Homo sapiens: one gene and its partners. The protein of the gene in region 1 purifies or fractionates together with the protein of each later gene. This does not show direct contact. Each region holds a gene or a part of one and is shown in the gene's direction. Other genes may lie near its edges.

Region 1 (7,715 bases):
GATATGTCATAGTGGTTTGTTAGTTTGTTTTTAATTCTGGAAATTTTTTCTTTTTTTTAATTCTGGAAATTTTCAAATATATGAGTGGAGAGAATAGTATATGAATCCCATGTACCTATTACCCACCTTCAACAATGACCAGTTTATAGCCAATCTTGTTTCTTCTGTATAGCCAGATTGTTTTGAATCATGCTAGGTTTTTAAAATTGAAGTTTTAATTTTTACTTAGTTTAGACACTCTGCAATATCACCAAAAAGTTCGCTGCATAGAAAATCAAGAAGTAAGGACTATGATGTATATAGTGATAATGATATCTGCAGTCAGGAATCAGAAGATAATTTTGCCAAAGAGCTTCAACAGTACATACAAGCCAGAGAAATGGCAAATGCTGCTCAACCTGAAGAATCTACAAAGAAAGAAGGAGTAAAAGATACCCCACAGGGTAAGAGTCAAACTATTTTATCATTTAAAGTTTATCTAGAGAAGCAGTCACAGTTGTCCATATACGGACAGAGGATTTTTCTTTGCACTTTATCTTATGATAAGACTATGGTTTTCATGAATATTTATACCAGACATGAGCTTGCATGGCCAGAGACCCCATCTGAGACCTGGCCACTTGGTGCATTAAATGCTTAGTTTGTAGAGGGAGCTGGAGGATGGAGGTGGGTTATCAAAGGCCCTGACTATTTCTAAAGGGAGAATGCTAAAGCCCTGGCCTCTGCATGTGTGAAGGATAGGATATGCCTGCTTGTATTGCTGTCATTTAAAGAGGATTGACTGGAATGGTTGTATGTCAGACTGTAACTCAGAAATATATTCTTCTAGATTACTAAAATGAGATTTAGCCATAAATATGAGGGCAAATGGCAATTATAAATGAAATTTTTGGCCAGGCATGGTGGCTCACGCCTGTAATCCCAGCACTTTGGAAGGCCGAGGCTGGTGGATCACTTGAGGTCAGGAGTTCGAGACCAGCCTGGCCAACATGGTGAAACCTAAAAATAAAAAAAAGTATCAGGGTATGGTGGCACATGCCTGTAATCCCAGCTACCCTGGAGGCTGAGGCACGAGAATCACTTGAGCCTAGGAGGCAGAGGTTGCAGTGAGCCGAGATCACACAGTGCACTCCAACCTGGACAACAGAGCGAGACTCTGTCTCAAAAAAAAAAAAAAATTAAAATTTTAATGCTGTCATTTTTTTGTTGTTTTCTTTACTTAAAATGGATCTGTATTGCTTGAGCCCAGGAGTTCGAGGCTCCAGTAGACTATGATTATGCCATTGCAGGATAGATGGATAAATGCGTGCACGGATAGATAAATAAATAAAAACTTGATCTATTTAAAATGTTTTCAGTGAAAAATCTGACAGTAATTTATGAGGTCATTGTAAACACTTAAAGTTTTACTGTTGCAGTTCCTAATTAGATCCATCATACTCTGAACACTTCAAAAGGATCTGCCTTAGAACTTATAAGACTGATTTTATTATCTTGCTTTTTTCTTGACAATACCTTATATATTTTTAAAAACAATGAATGGGGAATCCAGGATGTATTATCATAATTCTCTTTTTGGTCCCTTAGTCCCAGAGCTTCTAGGAAAACTGATCACTATCATGCCAGTTTTCACTTATTGAGCCTTAGAGAACTTTCCTCAATTATTGTAAATCATACTTCTTTTTTCCATTTGTTTTGCGACAGGTTCTCACTCTGTTGCCCAGGCTGGAGTGCAGCAGTGCAGTCATAGCTCACTGTAACCTTGAACACCTTGGCTCAAGCAATCCTCCTGCCTTAGCCTATAGTCCCAGAGTAGCTGGACTACAGGCGTGCACCACCACACCCAGCTATGTTTTTGTAGAGACAAGATCTCTAGGCTGCCTAGGCTGGCCTTGAACACTTAGGCTGGCCTTGAACTCCTAGCTTTGAGCAGTCCTCCTGCCTCAGCCTCCCAAAGAGCTGGGATTACAGACATGAGCCACTGCACCTGGCCCCGTACTTCTTAAAAGTAAACTGCTATTGTAACTTTATGTCATTTTTTAAATTAATTTTTTGTTTTTAGCTGCTAAACAAAAAAATAAAAATCTTAAAGCTGGTCACAAGAATGGCAAACAGAAGAAAATGAAGCGAAAATGGCCTGGCCCTGGAAACAAAGGATCAAATGCTTTGCTGAGGAACAGCGGCTCACAGGAAGAGGTATTGGAATATATGCTTCTAGGAATACCTGACCCCTGCATGCTTTTGGACTTGATCTTATACTTCAGTGACAAGAAGTGCTATGTGATATGGAGAGGTGGAAGCATCCCACAGAATCGGTTTTCGGATGAAGATGTCCTTTTACTGTCACTGGGTTCTCTGTGTTCTTCCTTCTTATTGCAGCTTTCTTTTTCTCACTGATTAGCTGCCAGCACCACTTTTAAGCCTTAGCGTTCTCACTGTTGTTCCTGAATATATGCACACAAGCTCCTTGATTTTTTTTATTATTGTTATACATATATTTTTTTGAGACAGAGTCTCGCCTTGTAACCCAGGCTGGTGCGATCTCGGCTCACTGCAAGCTCCGCCTCTCGGGTTCAAGTGATTCTTCTGCCTCAGCCTCCTGAGTAGCTGGGACTACAGGCGCCCGCCACCATGCCCGGCTAATTTTTGTATTTTTAGTAGAGACAGGGTTTCGCCATGTTGGCCAGGATGGTCTTGAACTCCTGACCTCAGGTGATCCACCTGCCTCGGCTCCCACCACCCACCACCTCCCTAAGTGCTGGGATTACAGGCATGAGCCACTGTGCCTGGTCACTCCTTGATTTTTTTTTTTTTTTTTTTTAGTGTTATACTATCAATGACTCGGGAAAAATGGGAAGCCCAGAGAAGATCAAATAGTCATGAGGCATTTCAAAGGCCACTGAGTCTTACAAATTTTTTACTACTAAAGTCCCTCATCCTGGCTCCCTCTGGAAATTAAAAATCAATATTTCTGAGCATTGGCCTTACTGAATCTCCCCACTCCCCACCTTCCTGTATTTTGATTTTGGTTTTTAGAAGTTCCCTTTCCTTGGTCTGTAGATGTAAGCAGGGTAGAATAATAAGTACCTCTTCTGGATTCCACTTTTCTGAGGGCTTTTAACTGGATGGCAACTTTTTTTATTAGGCTTGGTCATATGGGACAAGGGTAAGGGGTGGTAAAATATTAGAAATGCCAAATATTCTAGATTGAAAAACATTTATATACAGTCTGTCCCCTGCCTCCATATTTTATGAATGAGGAATCTGAAGCCCTGTGGTTCAGGTAATTACCCATAGTCACACAGGGCCAAGCCAGGACTAGGATTTTGTTTCTCAACCCCCTGTCAATATTCTCTTTGATTTGATTTACATGGCTCAAATGATTATTCAGCCAAAGCTGACAGCCCTTCTACACAAGGAACAAATTCTAAACATATATATAGAATTTAATAATGTTACCAAATAAAACAAGATTTAAACTGGCAGATATTTATAAGACATAAATTTGATGGTGCTAAGTGGAAATTTGACATTATTATAAATGACTGTACAGTCAGCTCCCTTGTTTGTACATACTGTATTCCTAAAACTGTATGCAAAAATTTGGTATACAGAAGCTGTAATCTGTAGCATAAGTTAACATGTAAAAAGTACCTTATGTTTCTGAAGAGCTTAAATGTATTATAAGATTTTCTTCCTTTTTTTAATGTAAAAATCTCCTTTTATACCTTTATCACCATCTTTGACGGTGTATTTCTAGTTGCGTGTGTTAATTTGAGCTGATAAGTGTGCTCAACTCACACCCAGTGAGCATCTCATTGAAACTATAGATTCCACTGCTTTTGGTTCACTCTGATTTCCAACTTTGTCTCTACCACTCTAAAGATCTTCGTTCTTAGACTTCGGTTTTTAATCATAAATACTATCACTTTCATTTAATTTTTTTTTTTTTCTCCCTGAGATGGAGTCTCGTTCTATTGCCCAGGCTGGAGTACAGTGGTGCAATCTTGGCTCACTGCAACCTCTGCCTCCTGGGTTCAAGCGATTCTCCTGCCTCAGCCTCTAGAGTAGCTGGGCTTACAGGCGCACACCACCACTCCCAGCTAATTTTTGTATTTTAGTAGAGATGAGGTTTCACTGTGTTGGCCAGGCTGGTCTTGAACTCCTGACCTCAAGTGGTCCACCCGCCTCAGCCTCCCAAAGTGCTGGGATTACAGGCGTGAGCCACTGTGTCTGGCCCATTTAAAAAATTTTTTTCATTCATTTTTACAAAATAAAGGCAATGTATCATAAAATATTCAAATCAATACAAACATTAATATTCAATGATGGAATGCTGTTGAAACTGACAAAACATTCATTTTTAACCTGGTGTACAGAAATCCAAATTTTACATATGAAGGCCAATTTAGAAGAGTCACCTTTAAGGCTCTGAAGTTGGTTTAAATAATTTTGTGCAACAGAATAAAATATTTAATTTTCTGTTTCTTACATTTAGTTTTTTTGTTTTTGTTTTTAAAGGATGGTAAACCTAAAGAGAAGCAGCAGCATTTGAGTCAGGCATTCATCAACCAACATACAGTGGAACGCAAGGGAAAACAAATTTGTAAATATTTTCTTGAAAGGAAATGTATTAAGGTATAAAAATGTGTAAGCAAAAATCTACTAAAATGTAAAACTGCTCTTTCTGTTTGATACTCTTTTAATTCATACCTTTAGGTTTTTAAAGCTGTTTCATTCTGGAAAAAAATCAGTTAGAAAATTTTAGTGAAGTATTCTTTTATGTTTAAAAAAGTAGCCAGGCCTGTAATCCCAGCAGTTTGGGAGGCCGACGTGGGTGGATCACCTGAGTCAGATAATTTTTATTTATGTATTTATTTATTTTTTTTGAGATGGTGTCTCACTGTGTCGCCTGGGCTGGAGTGCAGTGGCGCATTCTCGGCTCACTGCAAGCTCCGCCTCCTGGGTTCATGCCATTCTCCTGCCTCAGCCTCCCAAGTAGCTGGGACTACAGACGCTAGCCACCACACCCAGCTAATTTTTTTTGTATTGTTAGTAGGGACGAGGTTTCACCGTGTTAGCCAGGATGGTCTCGATCTCCTGACCTCATGATCCGCGCACCTCGGCCTCCAAAGTGCTGGGATTACAGGCGTGAGCGACTGATAATTTTAAAAAATGCTTTATGTTTAAAAATGTTTGGGACTTAAGAAGATTTTAAGCAGATATATGTGATGTGGTTATAATTTATTAACAGTTAGAATGTGCTACCTCTAAGACTTTGGTTCTTTCTGGAATCATTTGCTTATTTAAAGTTTAGTAGGAATTAAATCATAATGACTTGACTATGAGAAATAATGGCTTTTCCTTGCTCCTTCTTTTGGCCTAGGGAGACCAGTGTAAATTTGATCATGATGCAGAGATAGAAAAGAAAAAGGAAATGTGTAAGTTTTATGTACAAGGATATTGTACCAGAGGTGAAAACTGTCTGTATTTGCATAATATCCTTTATCACAAGATATGGTGACTTTATAAATATTTACATGAACATTTTAAATGTGCAAAATTTTTAATGAAACCAGTGTTTTAGGTATACCAAAATGATATTATCCAAGCCCAACTTAGTATCAAAGTGATTAAATTGTACGTGGATTTTTTCATAAGCAAGAAAAGAGGGATTCTTTAGAAAATCTCTCAAATGATGATTCTTTCTGCTCAACCTGGGTGGTATAGAGGGTCCATGAGACCTCTTCAAATCCCAGAAAGACTTATCACAATTTCTACTGTGACACTGATTAATTGAATCTATATTCAAATAAGCTACTTCATAAAAAGGCAAGGATTACATAATTTGGGAGTACCTGTTTTCTGTGTATTCTGTACTGTGTAGAAATTAATCATCCCTTAATTTGCAGAATAGCCTTAGCTCTTCAGTGCAAATGGCACAGACAAGTTGTAAAAACATGGAACATAAACATTTTAGGTTAATAGCACCTTTAGTCATCACAAAAAAATTTTTTTCTTCAGGCATTCAATATAAGGAGTATCAAATTGTAATTTGAGGATTGTTTTCCTAGAAAATATTGAAGTTATATAAATTTATTCTGTTGTAAACAAGTCTAATGTACAAAGGATCCAGATTTGTAAGATATGTCGTTGTTGACTTTGATTCCTCCACCCCCAAAGGAATGCTTTAAAAATGATCACATTTATCAAGGTATTTAAAATATATACCCCTTTCATATATGAAACATGCCTGTACTCTATTATAAGAATGGATATGAAGGAAAAAAATGTCCTGTCATAGCCAAGAAACTTGATTTACGTATGTAGTCCTTCTAAAATTAGATTTTTAAATGTATTCCAGTTAGTTTATTATCTCATACTTTAAATAGAGAAATCCAGTTTCTGCTAGTAGGAAAGGTCTTTTTTTTTTTTTTTTTTTTGAGACATTATCTTGCTCTGTTGCCCAGGCTGGAGTGCAGTGGACAATCTTGGTTCGCTGCAACCTCCGCCTCCCAGGTTCAAATGATTTTGGTGCCTCAGCCTCCTGAGTAGCTGGGATTACAGGCATGCCTGCGCCACCATGCCCAGCTAATTTTTTTGGATTTTTAGTAAAGGCGAGGTTTCGCCATGTTGGCTAGGTTGGTCTTGAACTCCTGGCCTCAAGTGATCTGCCCACCTCCGCCTCCTACAGGCATGAGCCACCTCGCCCGGCCACAGAGGTCTTTATTTAGGAAAAATAAAGTCATTAAGTTAATAACATTATTTCAATTGGATTAAAATTGTTCTCTTCCTTAACACTTGGGTTACATGAATATCCTTGTAAGTTTTACCATACAGGAACAAAATGTTATCAGGGAGAATACTGCAAGTTTTCTCATGCTCCACTGACTCCTGAAACACAAGAATTGTTGGCTAAAGTAAGTATAATTTTTAATAATCTTTTGTTTTTTCTTTTTTAAGGAATATGTTTGAACTAAGGATGAGAATTTGAAGATAATTAAGGAGAGTGCCTCTTAGGTTAGCATATGGGATATATTAGGACTAATAACTTAAGAATTCAGTTTAAATATTTTTCATTTGTATATGTTTCCTTGTAGCTGAAAGGAAGATGTATATTCATTGCTGATTTAAGTTGGAAAGATGTAAAATCTTCAGTATAATTAGCCATTTTAATAGCTAAGCTAAGCTAAACAAAGCAAATCAAATAAGAAAAATAGTACTCCTGTTATAAAGATTCTTGGAAGGAAAGTTACAAGTTACGGGTTTATAAACATTTTAGAATTACATCAAATAATAGTTAAGTAGTAATTTCAAAATGTTTTCTTCAGATATTCTTTCAGTCTGTGAGAAAAGGTTATTGAAAAGTTACAGTCATTTGTATTCTTTCATTTCTCATGTTAGTTGGAGCTAGTCTCTTAAAAATTTAATCTAAGTATACATGAAAATTTAAAAGATTCTTTTGAAGCCAACCATACGATCTTCTGGCAAAATGTTCCCTTGAGCATATGTAAATATTACAAAGTCAAAGGTGCTTGTTTATAGATATTTTTAGGTTGTAAAATATGAATGGTTAATGTGGAATTAGAAGTTGTACCAAATATTTAGTTGTTTATTTGTGTGAAATAGATATGGAAAAGTGATATATATGAAATAAGTTTTTCAGTTCCTGTAGTAGTAGTAAATAATATTAGATGATTATTAGGATGAATTTG
Region 2 (8,119 bases), on another chromosome or scaffold:
AAATTTTAAAAACAAAAGCACAGATAGCATGACAATAACATTAAATATTAATTAAATGAAATAAATAAGGGAAGGAAGGGAGAGAGAGAAGGAGAGGGAGGGAATAGGGGAGGAAATGGCAGGAGAAGGAAGAAAGGAGAGGAGAAATCCAAGGAAGAAACAAAAAAGATAAATGAGCATTGAAAGTAATTTGAGCTCCCTAGTCATCAATTGGAAGGGAAAAAAATTACTGGATTACACAGTACTAATAATCTGTGCAGTTCTCAAAGTTTGGTCCAGAGACTCCTGGAGGTCTCCAAGACCTTTACAGGTATCTGTGAGGTCAAAACTATTTTCATGATGCTGTCTTTTCATCCTCACTCCTTCAGGGGTGCAGAATGAAGTTTCCCAGGATTATGTATATGCAATATTGTAAGATTCAATTGCAATCTGAATGTAGAAGAAACAAATATGAGAATCCAGTTGTCTTCCATTAAGCCAAATCATAAATACTTTTTACATTTCTGCTTTAACTTCTAATATGAAAAACATCAATAGACGTAAGACCCTATATACACAAGTTATTTGGGGTCAATAATTTTCTAAGTGTTAAAGAGTCCCGAGACCAAATAGTGTGAGAACTGCTGATCTATACAGAAGACGGATGCCAGTTCTTCAAGAGAAAGAAATTGTTTCCCGGTCTCACACTTTCAAAGATTATGTTACAAAGGACTTTGTCTAATACTTGATCTTAGCCAAAAGGCTGAAAAGTGATGATTTTGTGTAACAAATATGAATAGTAGGTAACAGATAGGGTTACCAGATAAAATACTGTGCAATATTTGGGATCCTAATGCTAAAAAAGGTATGCATTGTTTATTTGAAATTCAAATTTAACTGAGTAGCCTGTTTTTTGTTTTGTTTTTGCTAAATCTGGCAACACAGCAAGATGTTTGTGAAACGCCTTTAAAAGAAAGAGACAGAGGAAGGGAATTTCACCAAACTGTGAAAAATGGTAAAACTTACAATAAATTCTTGGCTTTCCATTATTTCTTCTGAAGTTATAAACCAGCTGGGTCCAGAAAATAGGAAATATTCAACTATTTATACCACCTAAAATTAAAAATGACATAAAATTTCAACCCTGATTTTTAAAAAATATCAAATATAATTTTTCTCAATAAACTCCCAACCACAGACATGAATCAAGGAGTTCCAAGATTACCTAACTACCAAGGGAAACAGAGGTGTAATTATCTATCACTGAGGACACAGTAAAAGTGATACCATGCTGTGAAACAAGCATTTTTTCATAAGTAAAGAAAAAACTAAGTAAAATACATAAATTAACTTGTAGTCTGCATTTTTCCAGATGCATAATATGTATCAGAAAACACGAATTTGTCCTCCACATGTTTGGTTCCCTATAGCGCAAATTCAATTTTTAAAGTTTTCTGAATTGCTACGGTTACCACAAGATGGCCCCCTTGTGTTTTAAATTTTTCCTTTCACTTCTTAGCATCAATATACCACAGTATCTAGGACCAATTACATAGTACCTCTACAAGGAAAAATCTTTCCAACACTGTTGCAACAGTTACTGTAGTTGTTATGCTATTGGATAAAACTGTTTTTGTGGGCAAATTTGGAAATCTAAAATCACTGATGGTGATCCCTGAAGAAGTAAACAGAAATGCCAAAGAAACATACTTTCTTTTTTTTCCCCTAAGGTGGTTCTCAAGATGTGACCCCTGGACCAACAGTATCATCTGGGAACTAGTAAGAAATGACCTATTAAGTCAGAAAGTCTGGGGTTGGGGGCCCAGCAGTCTGTGTTTTAAGAAGCCCTCCAAGTGATGCTGATGGACACTCAAGTTTGAGAATACAGATCTAAAAGACCTAGAAGGATTCAATAAAGCTGTAATTGTGATTTCAGTTCCTCTTTTAGACATATAAAATATGCCACTTACATATTATTTATAAGTTACATATATTTATTCAGTACTTACTATTGTGCCAGATATTATGCTAAAGTATTTAAATGGAAACTCTATCCTCCATCTGAAGGAATTTCAGTATGGCGGGGTGATAAACAGTAATTTTAATAAAATAAGGCAGGAATAAGCACAGCAGGGGCACCCAGCTTGGTGTGGATCATCAAACAAGGCTTCTTCAAGGAAGTAAAGTCTAAGCTGTAAGCTGAAATAACCCTTAGTCAAGGGAAGGCCAGTGAAGGTCTTCCCAAACAAGAATTGCAGGCCTGTGATCCCAGCACTTTGGGAGGCCGAGACAGGTGGATCACCTGAGGTCAGGAGTTCGAGACCAGCCTGGCCAACATGGTGAAACCCCTGTCTCTACTAAAAATACAAAAATTAGCCAGGTGTGGTGGTGCGTGCCTATAATCCCAGCTACTTGGGAGGCTGAGGCAGGAGAATCACTTGAACCCAGGAGGCAGAGGCTGCAGTGAGCCGAGATCACGCCACTGCACTCCAGCCTGGGCGACAAGAGCAAAACTGTCTCAAAAAAAAAAAATAAAAGGGCGAGGCGGGGGCGGTGAAGTGCAAGAAAGTGACTGGCATCTTCCCTTGACTAATCAAGGTGATCTGGAGAAAGAATAGGTAAGGGGTATGCAAATGAGATATGCATACTTGCTTCGTGACACAGGTCACAGGACAGAAACCAAACCTACAGAAGGACTGCCTTTCAGAAATATAACTCCTGGCCGGGTGTGGTGACTCACGCCTGTAATCCCAGCACTCTGGGAGGCCATGGCGGGTGGATCATGAGGTCAGGCGCTCGAGACCAGCCTGACCAACATGGTGAAACCCCGTCTCTACTAAAAATACAAAAATTAGCTGGGCATGGTGGCACAGGCCTGTAGTCCCAGCTACTCAGGAGGCTGAGGCAGGAGAATTGCTTGAACCCGGGAGGCGGAGGTTGCAGTGAGCAGAGATCACGCCACTGCACTCCAGCCTGGGCGACAGAGCGAGACTCCATCTCAAAAAAAAAAAAAAAAAAGAAATACAACTTCCACATCCTATCTCCCTCCCCTCCGGCGTACATAAATTGCTGATGCCTAAGAATGCCAAGAAGATAAAAGAGAGATCGAGAAAAACACTCCTGGGCTAGATATGCTGTATACATAGATGAGAATACATGGTACAGACACAGTGCTGGGCATGTGGCAATTATTAATATCAGATCTGTTTAATAGCTACCATTTATTCAGTGCTACCATATGCTAGAAACTGTTAAATGCTTTATTTGGAGGTTTTGTTTCTGTTGGCTTTTTAACTTTTCTTTTTCTTTTACAGAGACAGGGTCTCACTCTGTCACCTAGGCTGGAGTGCAGTGTTGCAATCATAGCTCGCTGTGGCCTCAAACTCCTGGGCTCAAGCAATCCTTCCAGCCTCCCAAAGTGCTATATTATAAACATTATATACATTATATTGTTAATTATATACATTATAATTATTATGTAATTATATAATATATAACTATATTACTGTATTATGTAATATACAATTATATGATTATCGTGTGTAATTATATATATTTATTGATTACATACTATGTATCAGGCAGGAATTGGACGAGATACTTTACATACAGTATTTATCAGTCTCATAATCCTGAAGAATAAGCATTATTACAATTTACAGATTAGGAACCCAGTATTTACTAGTTTAGGATAACTTATATGCTATTTCACAATTGCAAGATAAATTCTCCATTATTTTCCTAAATTGAGATATTACTTCTGGAATGTACAGTTTAAAAAGAACTAAGAAGACTGAAACTCTTAAAGGATGGTTAAATTCGATTATAGGAGAAAACCTAAAAAAAAAAAGCTAACTGGATCTTTTAAAATTTAGAAGAGCTCTAATACTTATTCATTGAAAGTCAACACCCTTTCTTATCTTAGTATTAATCAGAAAAAATTATTTTAGACAACAGCATCATATATATTTAAGTGAGATGCAAAGAGTTTTTTCCAAGTGTTCATCTGTCCACGTCTACCAGACAATTCACCTGTTGACCGACTTCTAATAGGTGAAAGATTAATCTCCAAATAAGTTTTTAAAGACCCCAGATGCTCTGTGATAATTATATACATACATACATACACACAGATATACGTACATACACACATATACATACATATACATTGTGCTACTATATGTACGGACGCAATATATATACATAAAACTCGGTGTTCTCAGTAAAGTATGAGCCATTATTCATTTAAATACTAGATATTTTTCCTTTTTTTTTAAACAAGGAGTATTTTTTGAACCTAAACCTGAACCTCTAAATAGTTCGGATAACAAAGTTTTGGAATCATGAACTCAACATTGTTAACAAACCATCCAGTCCAAATAAACAAAGGAAACCCACATCTCATTTGCCAAGATTCTAAGAACCATAATCCTGTCACCAAATGACAATGGAGACTTGATCCTTTCTCAGTCCTAAATACAAACAGCAAAGCCCTCTTTGGTCCTCATACCTACTCGAAATTGCAAAGCAAGGCCTGGGAAAAACGGTGAAGAGGCACCACTTACTACAAGCAGTCCGAGTAGCTGTGACTGCGACCACCCCAATCCTGGTTCCAAACAGCATCCTTCCCGGTTCTCTTCTTAAGGAGCAGAGTCTTTCGTCCCTTCGCCCCAAATCGCTCAAGTCATTCCTAGGAAATCCCGAGAAACACTTCACCTCACCTGTCAAATTGCACAAAATCCACTTTCGAATTTCTCCCGCGAAACAACGTGACGTCATTAACGCGGGACCTCACCAGATGAGGACCCAAAACTTGGCCCGCCCACCTCCGCCTAAGCCAAAAACCGCCGCTTTCAAATCGCCAATCAAATTCTTCCTTGGCTTCGAGTCTCTCAGCCGGCCGCGCTCTCCGATGCCCAGCCCTCCTGGAACCACCTCGCCTGTGACGTAGGTGGAGCGCGCACTGCCTCCGGGCCCGTCTTTCTCAATTGGGACCGGAAAACGTTGTCGCTCATCCTATGACGCGAAAGTAACCGAGACTATCAGGATCCGGAGACGGAAATGTCCGAAGGCCGCAGTACTTGACCCTGTATTTTGGGAGTCGAACGGAGTAAGTTACAAGCGGCCTATAGGGTCGCACAGCTTGGGCGAAGTCTAATTAACTCTCCGTCCTTTTTCTTGCGGTCCACTCTATCATCTATCGTCCTTCTTACCCCGCCCCCCCGTCCTGCACACCCATCAGTTCCTTGGCCTAGTTATCTATGCGCACGCGCAAAAGTCTTCGGCAGCACTTGTAGTTCCCGTTTTCAGACAGTAAGGGCGCATAGGGGCCCGGCGTGGGGAGGTTTGGGGCGCGCCCGGCCTATGACGGCGTCCTTGCGGAAGTACGGGTGCCGAGAGAAGCAGTAGTCAATAAAGAGAGTGCCGTATTTCGCAGATTGGAGCTGAGCTGTGGCTGCCAGAAGATAGCGAACGTGAGGATTTATATTCTAAAATTATCATCTTCTTTTGCAGGACTCTGCCATCGTCCTCAAAGAGTAAAAAATCCAGTTACGGAAGGGAACTAACACTTGCTAGATATGGTGTGCAGAGTGCGTTTGCAAAGAAACTTAAGAGAAAACAAATGATAGGACACAGGGTGGTGGAAGATCTCAAAGAGTAAGATGCCATTTAACCTGGGCCTTGAAAATTTAATAAGGAAATTTAGACGAGAAGATTCAGACAAAGCAGAACACACAGGCCACTACGTGTTGAGGGACTTGAGTTGTAAGCAGTGACCAGAACAATGATTCTTAACCTGTTGTGGCACACTTCTTTTGAAAACTTAATTATATGGATTAGCTTCTCAGGAAAACGTGCATGTACCTATTAAAACATTTTGCGAGGCTGGGCACGGTGGCTCACGCCTGTAATCCCAGCACTTTGGGAGGCCGACGCGGGAGGATCACTTGAGGTCAGGAGTTCGAGACCAGCCTGGCCAATATGGCAAAATCTCGTCTCTACTAAAAACACAAAAATTAGCGGGGAGTGGTGGTGCACACCTGTAGTCCCAGCTACTCAAGAGGCTTGGTTGGGAGAATCGCTTGAACTCGGGAAGCAGAGATTACAGTGAGCCGGGATCGCGCCACTGCACTGCAGCCTGGGCCACTGAGAGAGGCTGCGTCTCCAAACAAACATTTTTCATATAATTTCCTCAGGAGAAATTACGAAATACTTTTAAATAGCAAACACACACAAATGACTTGGTGTCTTGTCTGACTCACTCTTCCAAGTTATCTATGTCTTTCGTGGTCTTTGAACTATTTTTCAACCCTGTAACTCGCTACAGCAACATGGAAATTAGGTTTGTCCAGTAAAGATGCAATTAATTATTGTCCTGAGCAGTATTTATTAATATTCATTTCAACGTTCCTGATTGCCTGTGTACCTGCTTTTTAAATTCTCCTTTGAACTGGTTTTTAGCACTTAACTGGTTCCCTTATTTACAGTCAAGCACCACATACCGACAGACCGCATGTATGACAGTGGTCCCATAAGATTATAGGTGAGTAATAGGCAATAGTACCTAGGTTTGTGTGAATACATCATAGAATAACTACATACTCAATGATGTACTTACTCACCTGACTGTGCATTTCTCAGAATGTGTCCTTGTCGTTAAGCAACCCATGACTGTGCTTAAATCTTTACCGTGTATTCATTTTATATTTGTACAAGAGTCTTGATTTTACCTTATCTTTAAAATGTATCATTTACAATTTAATGGAGCCCACTAGAATTCTTGTCCAGCCAAAGTTGCATGGACTTCAGATTAAGAATTCCTGAGTCAGAACATAGAGTCCGTGGTGATAAATTGCGGGAAATTCTACCAAAAGGTAGACAATGTGGGATCAAACATACCTGGGACAACTTACTTAGCTAGCTTTGGCCAAGTCACTTAAACCTTTTTGAGTTTTTGTGTTAAGATGGAAGAAACTGCTACCTAGTGGGATTGTGAGGATTTACAAAAGTGTATATAAAGTTACTGGTATTGTTACCCAATAACTTTTATTCTTCATTTAAAGCCAGTTAAATGTTACTTTTTTTTTTTTTTTTTTTGAGACGGAGTCTTGCCCTGCCGCCCAGGTTGGAGTGCAGTGGCACGATCTCGGCTCGCTGCAAGCTCCGCCTCCCGGATTCACACCTTTCTCCTGCCTCAGCCTCCCAAGTAGCTGAGACTACAGGCGCCTGCCACCATGCCCGGCTAATTTTTTTCTTTTCTTTTTTCTTTTTTTGTATTTTTAGTAGAGACGTGGTCTCACCTTGTTAGCCAGGATGGTCTCCATCTCCTGACCTCGTGATCCGCCCGCCTTGGCCTCCCAAAGTGCTGGGATTACAAGCGTGAGCCACCGCGCCTGGCCAAGTGTTACTTTTTTTTTTTAAAACAGTGTTTTCATAAACTGCATATTATGTTACGGGAAGGTGCTAAGGAATTTCTAATGTTGCAAGTTTTGACAGAAGCATCACAAAACCAGGTCTGTGTTTTAGATGGGTTATACATAGGCTCCTGTTGAGAATGGGTGACTTACAGAACAGTTTATAAACTATTGGCATATTCTAGTGACAGTTGTAGCAGTAGTTGTAGAAAACACTGGATGGAGATGAGAGCCATTTCAAAAGTCAAACTGATAGGATTTAACAAGAGATTGGATAGAATAATTGGATAGAATTATTGATAATTGGATAATTATCAATAATTTATAATTATAGATTATCAATTATAGAATTATAATTATCAATTATAGAATAATTGATAATTATAGCCTACGTTTGTGTTTGTTCGTTTTTGAGATGGAGACTGAATCTGTCTCCCAGACTGGAGTGCAGTGGTACGATCTCGAATCACTGCAACCTCTGCCTCCTGGGTTCAAGCGATTCTCCTGCCTCAGCCTCCCGAGTAGCTGGCATTACAGGCATGGGCCACCACACCCAGATAATTTTGTTATTTTTAGTAGAGACTGGGTTTCACTTTGTTGGCCAGGCTGGTCTTGAACTTCTGACCTCAAGTGATACACCTGGCTCGGCCTCCCAAAGTGCTGGGATTATAGGCGTGAACCACTGCACCTGGCCTATTTGTATTTTATTTACATCCCACAACCTT
Region 3 (7,715 bases), on another chromosome or scaffold:
ATGGGTAATGAGCTGGAACTGTAGAAATAAATGAGATTGCATAGGATAAAGTAAAAGTAACAGAAGAGAGAGCCAAGTATAAAGTTCCACCAACATGTTAATGGTGGGCAGAGGAAGAAGACTGATAGAAATGGATTTTTCATTATAAAAGCTTATTTTATGAGGTTTTGTTTTGTTTTTTAAATAAAGCAGTCTAAGGATTTGCCTTCTCAAACAGGGATTGCTTAATAGGAATAACAAGGTAGTGGTGAGGGTAGAATTGGAAAAGTGCTGCTCCATAAGATTGACATTTGAAGCACAGGTGTATCTGGCACTATGATGGAGTTGATAGTTGCCATGGGTATACCTCAGGAACACAGCAGCTGTCCAGTATGTATGCCTTAGATCTACCACATGTGTAGAGTGAGTTTTTTTCTCTGTATTTACTCCATTGTCAAATTTAGAAACAGACAGATACATGTGACTCCAACAACAGTAAGTATATTATTCTAGTAACCAAAAAAAACTTTTTCCTAGGGCCTGTCTTATAGACTGAAGGCTGAAATTATTCATAAACTGTAACAAAGAATTTGGTCAATGTCTGCAACCTAAAAATTTGATGTTTTATGATTTTAAAATAAATTGTAAATATTTGGTCTTTTGTTTCAGATATTTTCCAAGTATGGCAAAGTTGTAAAGTAAGTATTCACATTAAATTTTGTAACTTCATTTAAAAGTTTATCTGAATTTGCTTCTACATTTTTTTAATGACAGATTTTTAAAAATAAAACATGCTTGATATAATAAAGAAAATACTATTAACATTTTTATGACAATTTAGTTGGTTTTCCATGTACATAAACATGTAGACAATTTTTCTTAAAGACTATTACATACATACAATTTTCTTTTCTTTTTTAATTTGACATACCATAAATGTCTTTCCATGTGCTATAAAGATACATCCTCATAGCTAATGGTAAACAAATATTTTGGTTACTAGGAAGTGTGTTATCAAGTATACTATAAGTAACCTACTTTCAAATAAATAGGTGGTTTTTTGTTTTGTTTTTTTTCATATAAATAGTGTAAAAACAAATATTTCAGTGCATCTGACTTGCAGGATGCTATGAGTCTTTTAAATAGAAAACATATTATCTTCCTTCAGAGATAGCTTGGAGATCGTTGGAAAGACTAGAAACATGCAAAAATGGTAATGGATGATAACAGGGCTGAGGGTTAGGAACAATAAAAAGAACTTGAACTTCTCGTATTTCACTGTTTTAAATCAAGCAACTATATTATGGGGCAAAAAAGTAACAGGATACTGTCATCCTAACTTTCTTGTAACCAATATAGATTCTGATATAAATTTAAAATCCCAAGAATTTTGAGCATATTTATCTTGGCTAATTTCTTCTAGTGTTCCATAAATGGATATTAAACAGTTGAAGCTCTTTTGCATCTTGAAATTACTAACTTCTTTTACAGTTACTTTGCTATTAAAAAAGCATTATCAAAAATGCTTCTGTGTAAATTTTTGGGTGTTCAGATTTTAAAAAGTCATTGTCATCAGTCCAAACACTGGTAATGATGATGGTATGTGATACTTAAATGAGCACATATATATGCCAGGCATTGTTCTAATCTCTTTATGTGTATTATTTAATTCTCACAACTACCCTTTAAGGTAGGTACTATTATCATCTCAGTATTATACATGATGAAACTGAAGCACACAGTAAACCTAAGGTCATCTTGCTAGCTAGTGGTGGAGAAAATATTTGAATCCAACAGTGAGATTTCAGAGCCCACTCCCTTTTACCTTTTTTCTTTTTCCACTTTGTTAGAATCTCTGAATGGATCTCCATATAAATATATAGTCCTAAACCATGAAACTGCAATGGAGTTAAAGACACGAGAGTTATAAGCACCTAGAAACAGGGAAGACTATCTAGTCTAGAGAGCCAGGGAAGGCTTACCTAGGTCAGTATTTTTTGAGTGGAAACCTAAAGGATGAGTAAGAGTTAAGTAGGCAAAAATAAGGGAGGAATATTTCAGGTAGAGGGAATAGCTTGTGCAAAGGCCCTGTGGCAAGAGAAAATAAAGTGAGATCAAGAAATAGAAAGAAGGCCAATGTGACTGGAGATGAGTGAGTAAGGGGGAGAAAGCACAAGGTGGCTCCAGAGATGGAAGCAGGTTCCTCATCTTACTTCTTGGTCAGGTTACCAAGGTATTTGGTTTTCATTCTAAGAATATCAGGAATCATTTAAGAATTTTAAGTGAGGGGTGACATGATTTAAATTTTTTAAAGTTTATTCTGGCTTAATGTAGAAATTAGATTGGAGGGGAACAAAAGCAAATGCAGCTGGGTGCAGTGGCACACACCTGTAATCCCAGCACTTTGGGAAGCCGATGTGGGAGGATCACTTGAAAGGTCATGAGTTCAAGACCAGCCTGGCCAACATGGAGAAACCCCATCTCTACAAAAAATACAAAAAGTAGCCGGCCCTGGTGGTACACACCTGTAATCCCAGCTGCTTGGGAGGCGAGGCATGAGAATTACTTGAACCCAGGAGGCGGATGGAGGTGGAGGTTGCAGTGAACCAAGATCACACCACTGCACTGCAGCCTGGACAGAGCAAGACCCCATCGCAAAAAAAAGAAAAAAGCAAATGCAGTGAGACCAGTCTGAATCTAAAACTGTAGCCCAGGGGAGAAATGTGTACTAAAATAGTACAGGTGGAGATATAGAGACTGGTCAGATTTGAGAGGTGGTCAGATTTCAGAGATCATTATGAAATAAAGTGGGTAATAGTGATGTGTATAGGAAGCAAAGTGGGTACTATTTAGTGATATGCTTACTTTGCGTATAAGGACTTTGTGAACAAGAAGGAGGTGTTATGGATGACATTCAGGTTTCCCAAAATAGTGTATGCTTCATATTATGTGCTTAAATAAGTACATCATATACCTTATATTAGGAAATGGTGCTATTATCTACCTCTTTTCCCTTGCCAGAAACATGGGAGTCACAGTAGATTTGTCCTTTTAAATCTCTGATGTAATTTTTTTTTTCTGTTACCACAGAAGGTATCTCTATCAAAGTATTGTATGATAGTTGGTTTGTTGGTCTGTCTCTACCACTAAACTGTAAGATTTCTCCTGAGGGTAAAAACTACTGTTAGTGCTTAGCACATGGGCTTGAGGCTAACAGAGTGACTGAGTGACCGAATGAATGAACACACACAATGTACTCTTTTAGAAACTACTTTTCCCATTTTTTTGGTCTGTCTTTCCCATTGAATATAAAGGTATATCTATCAATCAACATATTGAGCTGGGCACATATGGATTACAGAGACAGCCTTAAAGGAGTTTACATTAAAATAGATGAGATGAGGCATTGTTTATGAATAACACAATTCAGCAGAGACTAGCATAACGGAGGAGAAATTATATCCAGTTGAAGCTATTAGAAACTGACACATTGACCTGAACCCCGAAAGAATGAGGAAAATTTTAATGAGCAGTGATTCAGAGGTGGAAGAAGATAGAAGCTGTATGAACAAAGGCACAAATTTGGGGAAATACAGGCCATGCTACTGGAGCATTGAGTGGTTTCTTTTGGGTAGACTTCATAGTGTGTGCGTGGGAAGGAGCAGTGAAAGATGAAGGAGATGGGAGCCAAATCATCAAGGATACTGACAGTGGGACAAAGAATAGGCAACTTACAGAACCAAAGATTTTTGAACAAAGGAATGGTGTGATTTTATTTATTCCTTAAGTAGAAGACTACTTAAGGATATGAGAAAATTATAAGAGAAAAAATTACCATAAAGGAACCAATAAGAATAGACTGTTAAAACAGTAATGCCCCTATGGACAAGAAAAAAGCAGTGGAATTGGAAAAGAGGCAACAGATGAGAGATCATTAATTGAGGATGATGTAGAAAGCCAATACTTCTTTTGAAATACTACTTTAAAAAAAAAGACTGATAACTTTCACAAACATTACGAAAAATTCCAAAACATAAAGCAACTACCTTATTCAATATTTCTGTCAAATTGGTGATTTTTCCAACTCCAGCATTCCCTCTACATTCACCAGTCATCCCTTGGCATTCTGTTGTAAGCAAGAGCCTTCCCTCCCATCTCCTCCACTTATTTATTGGTCTTTTATCAGTAAGAATTATAAATTCCTACCTTCTCTGTGGCTTATAATTTATTACTGTAATGAATTATTTTGATGCTCAAATTGTCCTTGATTTGGCCAGTGGGAGCTCCTTCCAGCTGGCTGCTGTATTCTTGGCCCCATCATTCATTCATTCATTCCTCCCTCCGTCTCTCTCTCTCTCACTCGCTCACGCACTCTTGCACTCTCTTACCTTCTGGCATAAGATGTTCCAAGCTCCTCTTGTACCTGCCCTGCTGTAGCCTTGGAATCCGCTATTTCTCCAAAGAGCCCTGTTGAACATTGTTTTTAAACTATGTTAAATGACATACGGTGGGCAAGGGCCTCCATGACTAGGGATGTGGATGGGGCAGGAGAAAGAGCAGGCTCTGTGCTCTCATAACTCTCCTTGTCACTCAGGTACACCCTGGTGGGTGGTATGGCTAAAAACCACAGAACTGGAGATTCTTTTTCCCTAAAGATCGGGGTCTCATTATGTTGCCCAGGCTGTTCTCAAACTCCCATGCTCAAGCATCCTCCTGCCTCTGCCTCCCAAGTAGCTGGAACTACAGGTGCGCACCACCACAACCAGCTCTGGAGGGTTTTTTTCCTTATTTTTCTGAAGATTCTTTAAAAGAATATTAAGAATATACTTTGATTCTAACACTTAGAAAAATAAATAAATCATTTTACTTTTTGTGTAAAGTATACCTTTATTTTGTTTTGTTTTGCAAGGTGAGGGAGTTAGCATGGAAGAGGGATTGTGGTTACACTTTAAGATTTCATTGTCTCTGTAATTTCTTTACTTCACCCTTCAATCTCTGATTAACTCCTAATCATAGCTGTGCTCACTTCTGTTAAATCAGTATCACCCTTTCCCATTTCCATTCTTGATATCCCTTGACTTTGAAGAGATAGCTGATTTTTCAAATGTATTAATTTATCTTATAAATTTTTAGCCCTTTTTAAAATGAATTTTTCAAGTATTAGTATCTGTTTTATTTATTGCTGCCTCATTTTTAACTCTTTGTTTATGCTTTAAGGGTTACCATCATGAAAGATAAAGATACCAGGAAGAGTAAAGGGGTTGCATTTATTTTATTTTTGGATAAAGACTCTGCACAAAACTGTACCAGGGCAATAAACAACAAACAGGTAAGCTATTCATCTCCATCAAGGTTTTTAGCCCCAAAGCCTTTATGCTCATCCAGGCCAAAAATGTGGGGATATAGTGGATCATCAGGTCTAGCAGATATCAGTAGATTCTTAAGATATCTAACTTATAGAAAGAAAAGAGGTCAAACTACTGGGTTCTCAAAACATTGGTGGAATCTCAGGAATAAGAATACTACAGAATAGAATTTATCACACCTAAGTGACAATTGCTAAAAAATCCAAAATAAACTGGAATTGAAGATTTGAGAAAATTGATTAAATAATTAATTTTAGGTTTCAGTGAAATACATTCTACATTTACATTTTTCTCTTGTTTAGTTATTTGGTAGAGTGATAAAAGCAAGCATTGCTATTGACAATGGAAGAGCAGCTGAGTTCATCCGAAGGCGAAACTACTTTGATAAATCTAAGTGTTATGAATGTGGGGTAAGTAAACCTAAAACTTAATGGAACTTTCCATAGTTTAAGATACTTTTCACATCAGTCTTTTATTTTTGCTCACCAAAACTTCTGACTGGCTAAACCAGATTATGAAAATGCTTTATTTTTTAATATTTATTTTTTTGAGATAGGGTTTTCCTCTGTCACCCAGTGCAGTGATGCAGTCACAACTCACTGCAGCCTCTACCTCCCGGGCCCAACTGATCCTCCCACCACAGTGTCTGAGTAGCTGGGACCACAGGCATGCACCATCACACCCTGGTTAATTTTTAAATTTTTTTGTAGAGGCAGGGTCTTCCTATGTTGCCCAGGCCAATCTCAAACTCCTGGGCTCAAGCAGTCCTCCCACCTCAGCCTCCCAAAGTGCTAGAGTTACAGGTGTTAGCCATGGTGCCTGGCCTAGTTGTTAGGGTCTCTAAACTCATCAAAGTAAATTCAATTGAAATGCAATGTGTAAAGATAACCTGAGTTGGGTAATACAAAGTGGTATTTTCTCTAGTTCCTAAATCTTTGAAAATCACTAGTTTTAAAAGTGTTAGACTGATTACTTATGTCACTGTCTTGCAAGATTTTCGTAACTCATAAATTTTTGTTAATAGGATATTGCCTGTTTCTTTAACAGTTTTTAAGTCACAGTTCAATAGCAACATTATCATGTGACTTTATCCTCTATGGGATATTGTGTTTTGAAGTTTTTTATTTTTTCCTATTAGTATTGCTAGTGTTTTGTAACTGAACTATCCCCACATTTTCTTCTTTGGTTCTCTTCATGATCTGTCATTATCCATTTAAAGTTTTGGTGATGAAGAGAGAGAGACAGCCATAGAATAATTTTGTATAAGGTCTGTATTGGTACCAAGAGAATTTTAGTCTGGTTCTCACAGGTGTAAGTTTGTAAAATGACCATAAAAATACTTAAGAAACAGGCCGGGCACAGTGGCTCACGCCTGTAATCCTAGCATTTTGGGATGCTGAGGTGGACGGATCACTTGAGGTCTGGAGTTCAAAAGCAGACTGACCAACATAGTGAAACTGAGTTTCTACTAAAAATACAAAAAAAAAATTAGCCAGGCATGGTGGCAGGTGCCTGTAATCCCAGCTACTTGGAAGGCTGAGGCAGGAGACTCGCTTGAACCCAGGAGGTGGAGGTTGCAGTGAGCCGAGATTACTCCACTGCACTCCAGCCTGGGCAACAGAGGGAGACTCTGTCTCAAAAATAAAAATAAACATAAAATAAAATACTTAAAAAACAGAGTCCAGAGGTAGTAATGGGGAACTGGGGAGAGAATCACTGAAAGATACCGTCCTGGCTACAAAATCACATGGAAGATGCAAGGAAATGGCTTGAGGTCCTCTACCCCACTGTCACTCCCCATACCCCCGACAAAAAAGATAACTAAATAAACAGACTGATGGATGGATGAATAGAAAGAGTGAGCAAGCAGTTGCTTGGATACATACTGATTCTGTCAATTCCTATGATTCTAAAACCTCTTAAGTAAACACTTTAGAAACTTTTCCAAAGTTTTGAGTTTTGTAAAAGAAAGAAAGGGAGGGAGGGAAGGTAGTTATATTCAGATTAGTATATATCTTCATATTCACAGTAAATATTAAATTATCTGAGAAATCCTAGATGAATCTGTTAATCGGTTCCTTTTGGTTTATGGATCCATAGAGTTGTTATATTTTTTACATTTTTATATTTAATTTCCCTCCCTCCAAAAAAAACTTTTTTATATTGACCTAGCCTGGTTTTTCTCAAGTTATTTCATTAAATCCTTTTTTAGTATGGGATATGTTAATTTTTTTTTGCTATAATATTATTCCAAAACAGTTTCAGATATGTGTCTCTATTTTCTCAGCAGCTCATTAACAGTAAGTAACCTCTTTAAGTTGGGCTATGTCCTAGGTATACAAAGTGCACAGTCTGTCTGCTCTGTCAAAT
Region 4 (8,052 bases), on another chromosome or scaffold:
ACAAAAATCGGCCAGGGTTGGTGGTGGGTGCCTGTAATCCCAGCTACTCAGGAGGCTGAGGCAGCAGAATCACTTGACCTCAGAGGGAGGAGGCTGCAGTGAGCTGAGATTGTGCCACTGCACTCCATCCTGTGCTACAGAGTAATACTGTGTCAAAAAATAAATAAATAAAAGTTCTTACTGGAGAGAAACCTTATGAATATTATGAATGTGGGAAAGCTTTTATCCAGAAATGTATTAAGTACCAAAGATTTAATATCTCATGAATACAGAAAGTATGAGAAAACCTTTGCACAGAGCTCACACCTAATTCAGCATCAAAAAATTCAGTGGAAAGAAGTCATAAGTATGTAATTACTGTGGAAGAGCTTTCCATTCAAAATCACACCTTATTCAGCAGCAGATAATTCACAGTAGAGAAAAGGCCCGTGAATGCAATCAATGTGGAAAGCCTTCAATTGGAGCTCAGCACTTGCTAAAAATCAGATAATTAACACTGGAGTGAAACCTAATGGATGTAATGAATGTGGGAAAACTTTCATCCAGAGTTTAAATCTTATTCTGTCAGAGTTCATGCTGAGAGAAACCATATGAATGTAAATGAATGTGGAAGAGCCTTTAGTTACAGGTCACACCTTATTTCACATCATAGGATCCACACAGGAAATAAGCCATATGAATGCAAGGAATTTGGCAAAAATTCCCATCCAAATTTGTACCTTATTTGACATCAGGATATTCATCACAGAGAGAAATTACAGGAGTGTAATGAATGTGGGAAGGTGTTTGGTCAGAATCCAACCCTTGTTATACATCAGCAGATTCACATTGGAATGAAATCTGATAACTACAGTAAATGTAGGAAAGTTTTTTTGTAGATTCATAGCCCCTGCAGAACCTAAGGCAGTTCCAGGTAAAGAGAAACCCTATGGGTACAGTGAATATGGGAAGACCATACAGAATTCATACCACTTTCTGGATCAAAAAGAATCAAAGAAGAGACAAAGCCTATGAATCTCATGCATGTGCAAAAACCTTATATTATGTGTCAAAACTTATTAAGTATCAGGGTATGTAGTCTTTAATAGTTTAGAGCCTGTTCAGTAGCAGAAAATCCACTCTATCAATAAACTTTATGAACATAAATACTGTGACAAAGTCTTCAGGCTAATTTTAAGTTTAAAAAATCAGGCTTTATCATAGAAAAAAATGAGAAAAAAATAAAAGTAAAATGTGATCCAAACTTGTAATTATGTTAATGGAGACACAGTATATATAAACATATTTAGATATATGTTTTCTTTCTTTCTTTTTTCTTTTTTTTTTTTGAGACTAGGTCTTTCTCTGTCACCCAGGCTGGAGGGTGGTCGTAGAATTTTGGCTCACTGCAACATCCGCCCCTGCACCATCCCCCTTCCCACCGCTGCCCAAAGCAATCCTCCTGCCTCAGCCTCCCAAGTAGCTGGGACCACAACCGGCTAATTTTTTAAATTTTTTGTAGAGACCATGTTGCCCAGGCTGGTCTCAAACTCCTGGGCTCAGGCAATCTGCCTGCCTTGGCCTCTCAAAGTGCTGGGATTATATGCGGAGCCACTGTGCCCAGCCTGGATATCTGTTTTCTTAAACTGTGTCCTTCAAGGTCAGGGTACTTCTCTTGTTCTTTCACCGTACCCATCCCATTGCCTTATTCATTCAGCCCCTTAATAAATATTTTGGTGTGATTTGCTAACTATGGAAAAATCTTTTCTGAAGACTCATGTTTCCTGCCACAAGAGGAACCATAGAAAATATAGCACTGGAAAGGCAACAGTTCAAATCCAAGGTTATTCATGATTACATCAACCTACAATTACTGTGCAGCCCCTATGTGCCTGGTAGTGTGCCTGACAATGGCAAATCAGAGATGCAGAAACACTTGGCCTCTTTTCCTCATATCTCTCAGTCTAGTTGGGATACAAAGGTATGTAGAGACAGATAACCACATCAGTACAGTAATAGAGGTAAGAATACAGGGTTGAGTGGGGTCCCAGAGGTGGGAGAGGTCTACAGAGATGGCTCATTTTCAAAATTCTGAGAGACAATAACTGTTAACCTCAAATTGTGTTTCTATCCAAACTATCCTCCAGGAATTAGAATAAAAATAGGCATTTTCAGATGAGCAAAACCCAAAACACCATAACAGATTTCATTAAAGGAGCTTTAAAAGGATGTACATTTAAAGAAATGATATCAGAACTGAGATATAAGGAATGATGCCAGGCATGGGAGGCTGAGGTGGGAAGATTGCTTGAGCCCAGGAGTTCAAGACCAGCCTGGGCATCCTGGTGAGACCCCATCTCTACAAAAAATTACAAAATTAGCTGGTATGATGGTGCATGCCTGTGGTCCCAGCTACTTGGGAGGCTGAGGCAGGAGGGAGGATCAGTTGAGCCCAGGACAACCTAGGTGACAGAGTGAGACATGGACTCTAAGAAAAACAAAAGTTGTATATTTGAAAACACTGACTGTAAATAGAATTAAGTCTAATATGGCAGATTTAAAAACAAAGATAGAAATGAAGTCAAGACAAAAATAGCATATGAGTCAGGAAGGTAATGGATAAAATCAGAGCATTGAAAGTGAGGCAGGATAGGTAGTCAAGGAAGTAACCATGTCCTCGGGATGCAGCAACTGTTGTGACTGTGCAATCAGCACAATAAGCCTCTGCCTTCACATTGTGGTTAAGCTCTTTCAAGCAAAACTATCTTCAGTAGAGAATTTCCCCTGCAAAGAGCATGTACATTTTGATTTTACCTGTCCTCAGACTGACCTTTCGCTCATTATAATAGTAAAAAACAGAGCCCTGGTTGGAGGTTTAAGATGCTAATAAGACATGTGACATGTACGAACAATCATATACCAGCATGTAGAACAAGCATTGTATGACAAGAAGCATTGTATGAACAAGCATGTAAGAACATACAGCTACCGCACATGTGCACTCAGAGGACCATCCAGAACATACTCACTAGTAGCACCTCTTCCCAATTCCTTATGAATAATCATGTAAGACCCCCATAAAGGGAGTCTCCCTCATGCGTCTTTGCTGCCCCAACCTTATGAGCAGCTGGCCCTCAATCCTCTCTCTCTCTCTCAGGGTGTACTGTCTATTGTTCACTTAACTTTCCAAATATTCTTTCTCCTTTGTAATAAATTACTGTATGCCGCATCTCCTTTACTGCGTGTCCCGTTTAAATTCTGCGTGTTTTTTTTTTTTTTTTTTTTTTAGATGGAGTCTCGCTCTGTCACCCAGGCTGTAGTGCAGCGGTGCGATCTTGGCTCACTGCAAGCTCCACCTCCCGGGTTCATGCCATTCTCCTGCCTCAGCCTCCCGAGTAGCTGGGACTACAAGTGCCCGCCACTATGCCCGGCTAATTTTTTGGTATTTTTTAGTAGAGACGGGGTTTCACTATGTTAGCCAGGATGGTCTCAAACTCCTAACCTCGTGATCCGCCCGCATCGGCCTCCCAAAGTGTTGGGATTACAGGCGTGAGTCACCGCGCCCGGCCAATCCGCCGAATTTTGGGAGTAATGTATCACACTGCAGTAAATAACTATCAGTGATGACCAAACTGTAACCCTTCGAGACCTTGCAGACCAGGCAGCTAACACTTCCCACCCCACCGTCTCAGGAAACACCGCTTTCCACTCCTGTGTCCCCGAAAGGAATCATCAGACATCTCGGACTCTTACCTTCTCAAGCAACACAACCCACCCTCCTGGCATAGCCCGTTGCCCCCCTGAAACCCTACTCAGCCTCACCTCAACCCCTACGCAATTCCTCTCGGTTGTCATGCCTCCATCGGCGGGGGTCGAGTGTTGTGTGTGACCCCAGGTCTCTAGCAAGGTATAGTGGGAGGGAAGCATCCAGGGGAAGAGAGGTGGTGGGATGGGGCTCTCCCTCTCCCCCATACCGCCACCCTCCCTCACGTCCATATCCTGTCCAAGGCTCTTCCCGCGTCTGCTTCTGAAACCCCTCCACGTCCCTCCACCCCATGTGCCCCACTCGTTACACAAGAGCAGAGAGATCTGCAGAACATACGTCTACGATTATGCCACTCTTCAGATTTACATCTTGCAGCGACTTCCCACTGCGTTAGAACGGAAGTAAGCCCATGACGGGGGCCCTCCCAACTCTCAGACCTCACCCGAGCCTCCACGTCCCGAGACGCCGGCCTCTCAAACGACCGCGCCCTGACCCTCGCTCTTCCCCATTTCCCAGGGTCTTTGCCGACCACCCTCTTGCGCCGTAGCTGCTCACGTGCTGTTTACTTGCTTTTCCCTCCCCACCAAAAGGTGAGCCTTGAGAAGACACACCCTCGTGGAGAGCTTTGAACTTTTATCCGGAAAGGTGCCGGGCACGTAGTCAGCGCCCGCGATCACTCGCTCACAAGGGTTCTTCCGAGACCCCTCTTCAGCCTCTTCCCCGAACCCCCAGGCCCCGCCCCAGCCCCATCTCAGCTTCGTCCCAGGCGCGTCCCAGCTTCGCCCCGTCCCAGCTTCATCCCACCCCAGCCGCGCCCCGCCCCGCCCGCTCCCCGCCCCGCCCGCGCCCCGCCCGCGCCCCGCCCCGCCCGCGCCCCGCCCGCGCCCCGCCCGCGCCCCGCCCGCGCCCCGCCCGCGCCCCGCCCGCGCCCCGCCCGCGCCCCGCCCGCGCCCCGCCCGCGCCCCGCCCGCGCCCCGCGGAACCTAGAGTCGCAGGCGCGTTCTTGAAGGACGGAATTCGGCGTCGGACTCTGCGCCCCGCGTAGTTCCGGTGGCGACTGCGGCGCATGGCGGTGAGCGGTGTGGAGAAGACGCGCGGGTGGCTGGGCCTTGCATTGTTGGCGGCTCTCGGTGACCCTCGTGCTACCCCCCTTTCTCCAGGCCCTGGGACATCTTGCTGGGGAGGCAGCGGCGGCCCCAGGCCCGGGTACTCCCTGCGCGTCCCGCGGAGCCCGGCTTCCCGGCCCAGTTTCCAGCGCCCGGAATCCTTCCACTGTCTGTCTCTGCCCAGAGCAACCTACGTGCAGTAACGCTGACTCCAGAGCGCACCCGTTGGGCGATGAAGGCGGCACAGCGTCGAAAAAACAAAAGAATAAGAAGAAAACGCGGAACAGGGCCTCTGTGGCAAATGGAGGCGAGAAGGCCTCAGAGAAACTCGCCCCAGAAGAAGTTCCCCTAAGCGCTGAGGCCCAGGCAAGGGCGGGCTTCGGTCGGGAAGGGTGGAATCCACGGGTGCGAATCCACGGGCACGTGTGATCTGGGGTCCGCGGAGTTAAGGCGGGGAGGGGCATGGGATGGGGCCGGCGGCTATGGTTTTCCAGTGCCCTCTCACAGCCACTTCCCCAAATCCATCACAGGCACAACAGTTGGCCCAGGAATTGGCTTGGTGTGTGGAGCAACTGGAGCTGGGCCTCAAGAGGCAGAAACCCACCCCGAAACAGAGTAAGGGACCCTTCTGTAGAGCTGGGGGATGTGAACAGTGGCACTGCCTGGCCTGCAGGTGCTGGCAGAGTATGGAGTTGTTGGCTTTGCGGCGGGGTGGTAGGAGGTCAGTAATAGAGGTGTTCACTAGTCCTTTATTTTTATTCGCAGAAGAGCAGGCTATTGGAGCAATCCGAACCCTGCGCAGCAAAAGAACGCCCTTGCCCCGGAAGAGGCAGCTGATGCACTCCTTGTTTGGAGACTATAGGGCTCAGATGGAAGCCGAATGGCGTGAGGCCCTGCGGGCTCTCAGAGCTGGTGAGGAGCTAGCCACTGGTTGATTCAGGAAGGCCTAACTTAAGGAGGAAGTGTCTAGGGGGTGAAAGGAAGAAGGCCCAGAGCAACAAGCCTGGTGGGGGAAGGAGATGGGCTCAGGGAAGCCTGAGGGAGCAGGGAAACAGAAAGCGTGGACCTCTCTTTCCTCTTCCTAGGACTGAACCTGGGAAGCAGCGGGGAGGCCCTGGGAGGAGTGGGAAAGAGCATGGTCCTATGTTGGTCCTGCTCCTGGGTTGGGGAAAGCTGCCTCATGTCTTTGTGTCTTGGCTTTCTCTACTAGCAATGAAGCCATATCCCATAACAGTTTGAGTGCAATTCCTGGGGCCAGATCAGCTAGGTTCAAATCCTGGATCTACCACATAGTAGTACTAACACCTTTTGCAAACTACTGAACCTCTCTAAGTGGGGGATGATAGTAATATCAACCTTACAAATTTGAGGAATTAATCAGTTAATTTATGCAAGGTGGTTAGAATTGTATGGGCAAACATAACTGTACAGGTAATGTTAATTGTTATTATTCAGTTCTGACATACGCTGCTTCTCTCCCCGACAGCTGCTTATTCAGCCCAGGTGCAACCTGTAGATGGAGCCACCAGAAAGAAGAGCCAAAGGGTCTGCAGGCCTCGCTCTATATGGAGAGCCAAAGCCACTCTGGACATGCCTGATGAAGAGTTTAGGTTCAATTTCTTTTAGCGTCTCCCCGAACCTGAAACAATCCCCCTCCCTTGGGGTGGTGTAGGGGTTTGTTTTGAGTGCAGAGCCTTTCCAGGACTTCTGTTGTCAGAGAACCCTGGAGTTGGTCTGTCCCTGGCTGGTCCAAGGATTTGTAGCTGTTGTGAAGGTGTGAGACCATCAGATAGGCAAAAGACCCCGTTCGTTTTCTGATGAAATGTTCTCTCTTTCAGAAGAGAGAGAGAGGTGCATTTAGAAAATATGCAATAAATTGAAGTGAGTGTTCAAAGTATTGTAGAAGGAATATTGTACTCAGTCTTTAGGATTAGATTAAGTGGCTGTTGGTAACAAAGATTAGTGGAGAAGCTGTATAATCGTACACTGGTTTTCACTTTTGAAAGGAATCCCTGTCAAATGGTTTAGTGCTTAATGCTGTTATGTCATATTGCCCTAATCTCTATTTTTGATAAAATTGGATAAGGAGTGAAAGAGTATGCTGACCACCTATGTTAGAGGAAGTACAGAAGATGCAGGGGTGTGGTATCCCTGGGTCCAGTCCCTCACCTGGTACCTTTGTGCATGTTGCCTTCATTCCTGAGCAGGTATCATCCTCAGGGAACCAGCATGGCACCTACCAGGCCAGGCTCTGTTCTTAGGAGCAAGGAGCTTCTTGCGCTAACAGTTCTGGCCTGAGACCTGGATTGAGCCTTGGCAGACTTCTTGTCTAAATGTTGGCCATTCAGTCTCAGGCCCTCTGTTCCATGGAATTGGGAATCTCCAGGTGACCTAATCCTCATTGGTGGCTTGATGTTTGCTGGTATCTTCCAAACTCAGTTCCCAGACTAGATTGATACCTGGAGCCCAGCTGCCTACTCAGCATTTCCACTTGGGTGCTTCATAGGCATTTCAAACCTGATGTGTTTAAAACACTTGATTAGGCTCCGGTTTTCCTTTGGCTTCTGCTTTTCAGTGAATGGCATGACTGCCTATGTGGGTGGCAAGCCACCCAGGTGCCGAGGAAAGAGACTGAGGGCACGAGCTGTTCCAGTATAATAAAATATATAAAATAAGAAGAGTTATACTAGATCTAGATCATAGACATGATTATATGTGAGTATCATTAATCATTAGTTTATAGCAATTACTCTTTATTCCAATATTATAATAATCCTCACTCTACAATCATAACCTAGGAAAAACCAGGCCATACAGAGATAGGAGCCGAGGGGACATAGTGCGAAGTGGCCAGAAGACAAGAGTGTGAGCCTTCTCTTATGCCCGGACAGGGCCACCAGAGGGCTTGGTCTAGCAGTAACACCAGTGTCTGGGAAGATGCCTGTTGCAAAGTGGACCATGGTCTAGCAGTAGCATCAGTGTCAAGGAAAAACACCCACTACTTAGCAGACTGGGAAAAGGAGCCTCCCTTTCCCCGGGGGAGTTTAGAGAAGACTACTCCTCCACCTCTTGTGGAGGGCCTGACATCAGTCAGGCCCGCCCGCAGTTATCCAGAGGCCTGTCTCCCTGTGATGCTGTGCTTCAGTGGTCACGCTCCTAGTCCGCTTTCATGTTCCATCCTGTATACCTGGCTCTGCCTTT

The links.
Region 2: the proteins of ZC3H8 (region 1) and LARP7 purify together in Homo sapiens (affinity purification with mass spectrometry; 6 studies listed by BioGRID and IntAct, with this or other methods). This does not show direct contact.
Region 3: the proteins of ZC3H8 (region 1) and ZCRB1 purify together in Homo sapiens (affinity purification with mass spectrometry; 4 studies listed by BioGRID and IntAct, with this or other methods). This does not show direct contact.
Region 4: the proteins of ZC3H8 (region 1) and C8orf33 purify together in Homo sapiens (affinity purification with mass spectrometry; 3 studies listed by BioGRID and IntAct, with this or other methods). This does not show direct contact.

Annotation. Positions count from the first base shown.
Region 1 is NC_000002.12:112,231,043-112,238,757, reverse strand, and holds part of ZC3H8 (zinc finger CCCH domain-containing protein 8), read left to right. Parts: intron 1-229; coding exon 230-443; intron 444-2,062; coding exon 2,063-2,196; intron 2,197-4,521; coding exon 4,522-4,638; intron 4,639-5,386; coding exon 5,387-5,498; intron 5,499-6,810; coding exon 6,811-6,920; intron 6,921-7,715.
Region 2 is NC_000004.12:112,632,151-112,640,269, forward strand, and holds the start of LARP7 (la-related protein 7), read left to right. Parts: upstream 1-4,992; 5' UTR 4,993-5,089; intron 5,090-5,351; exon of another isoform or gene 5,352-5,453; intron 5,454-5,493; exon of another isoform or gene 5,494-5,637; intron 5,638-6,467; exon of another isoform or gene 6,468-6,523; intron 6,524-8,119. Other genes in the region: 5'-3' DNA helicase ZGRF1, read right to left, coding at 1,006-1,026. UniProt on the Homo sapiens protein: RNA-binding protein that specifically binds distinct small nuclear RNA (snRNAs) and regulates their processing and function.
Region 3 is NC_000012.12:42,315,380-42,323,094, reverse strand, and holds part of ZCRB1 (zinc finger CCHC-type and RNA-binding motif-containing protein 1), read left to right. Parts: intron 1-648; coding exon 649-677; intron 678-5,196; coding exon 5,197-5,308; intron 5,309-5,647; coding exon 5,648-5,755; intron 5,756-7,715.
Region 4 is NC_000008.11:145,047,681-145,055,732, forward strand, and holds the start of C8orf33 (UPF0488 protein C8orf33), read left to right. Parts: upstream 1-4,786; 5' UTR 4,787-4,811; coding exon 4,812-4,817; intron 4,818-4,905; coding exon 4,906-5,217; intron 5,218-5,381; coding exon 5,382-5,466; intron 5,467-5,616; coding exon 5,617-5,763; intron 5,764-6,337; coding exon 6,338-6,477; 3' UTR 6,478-8,052.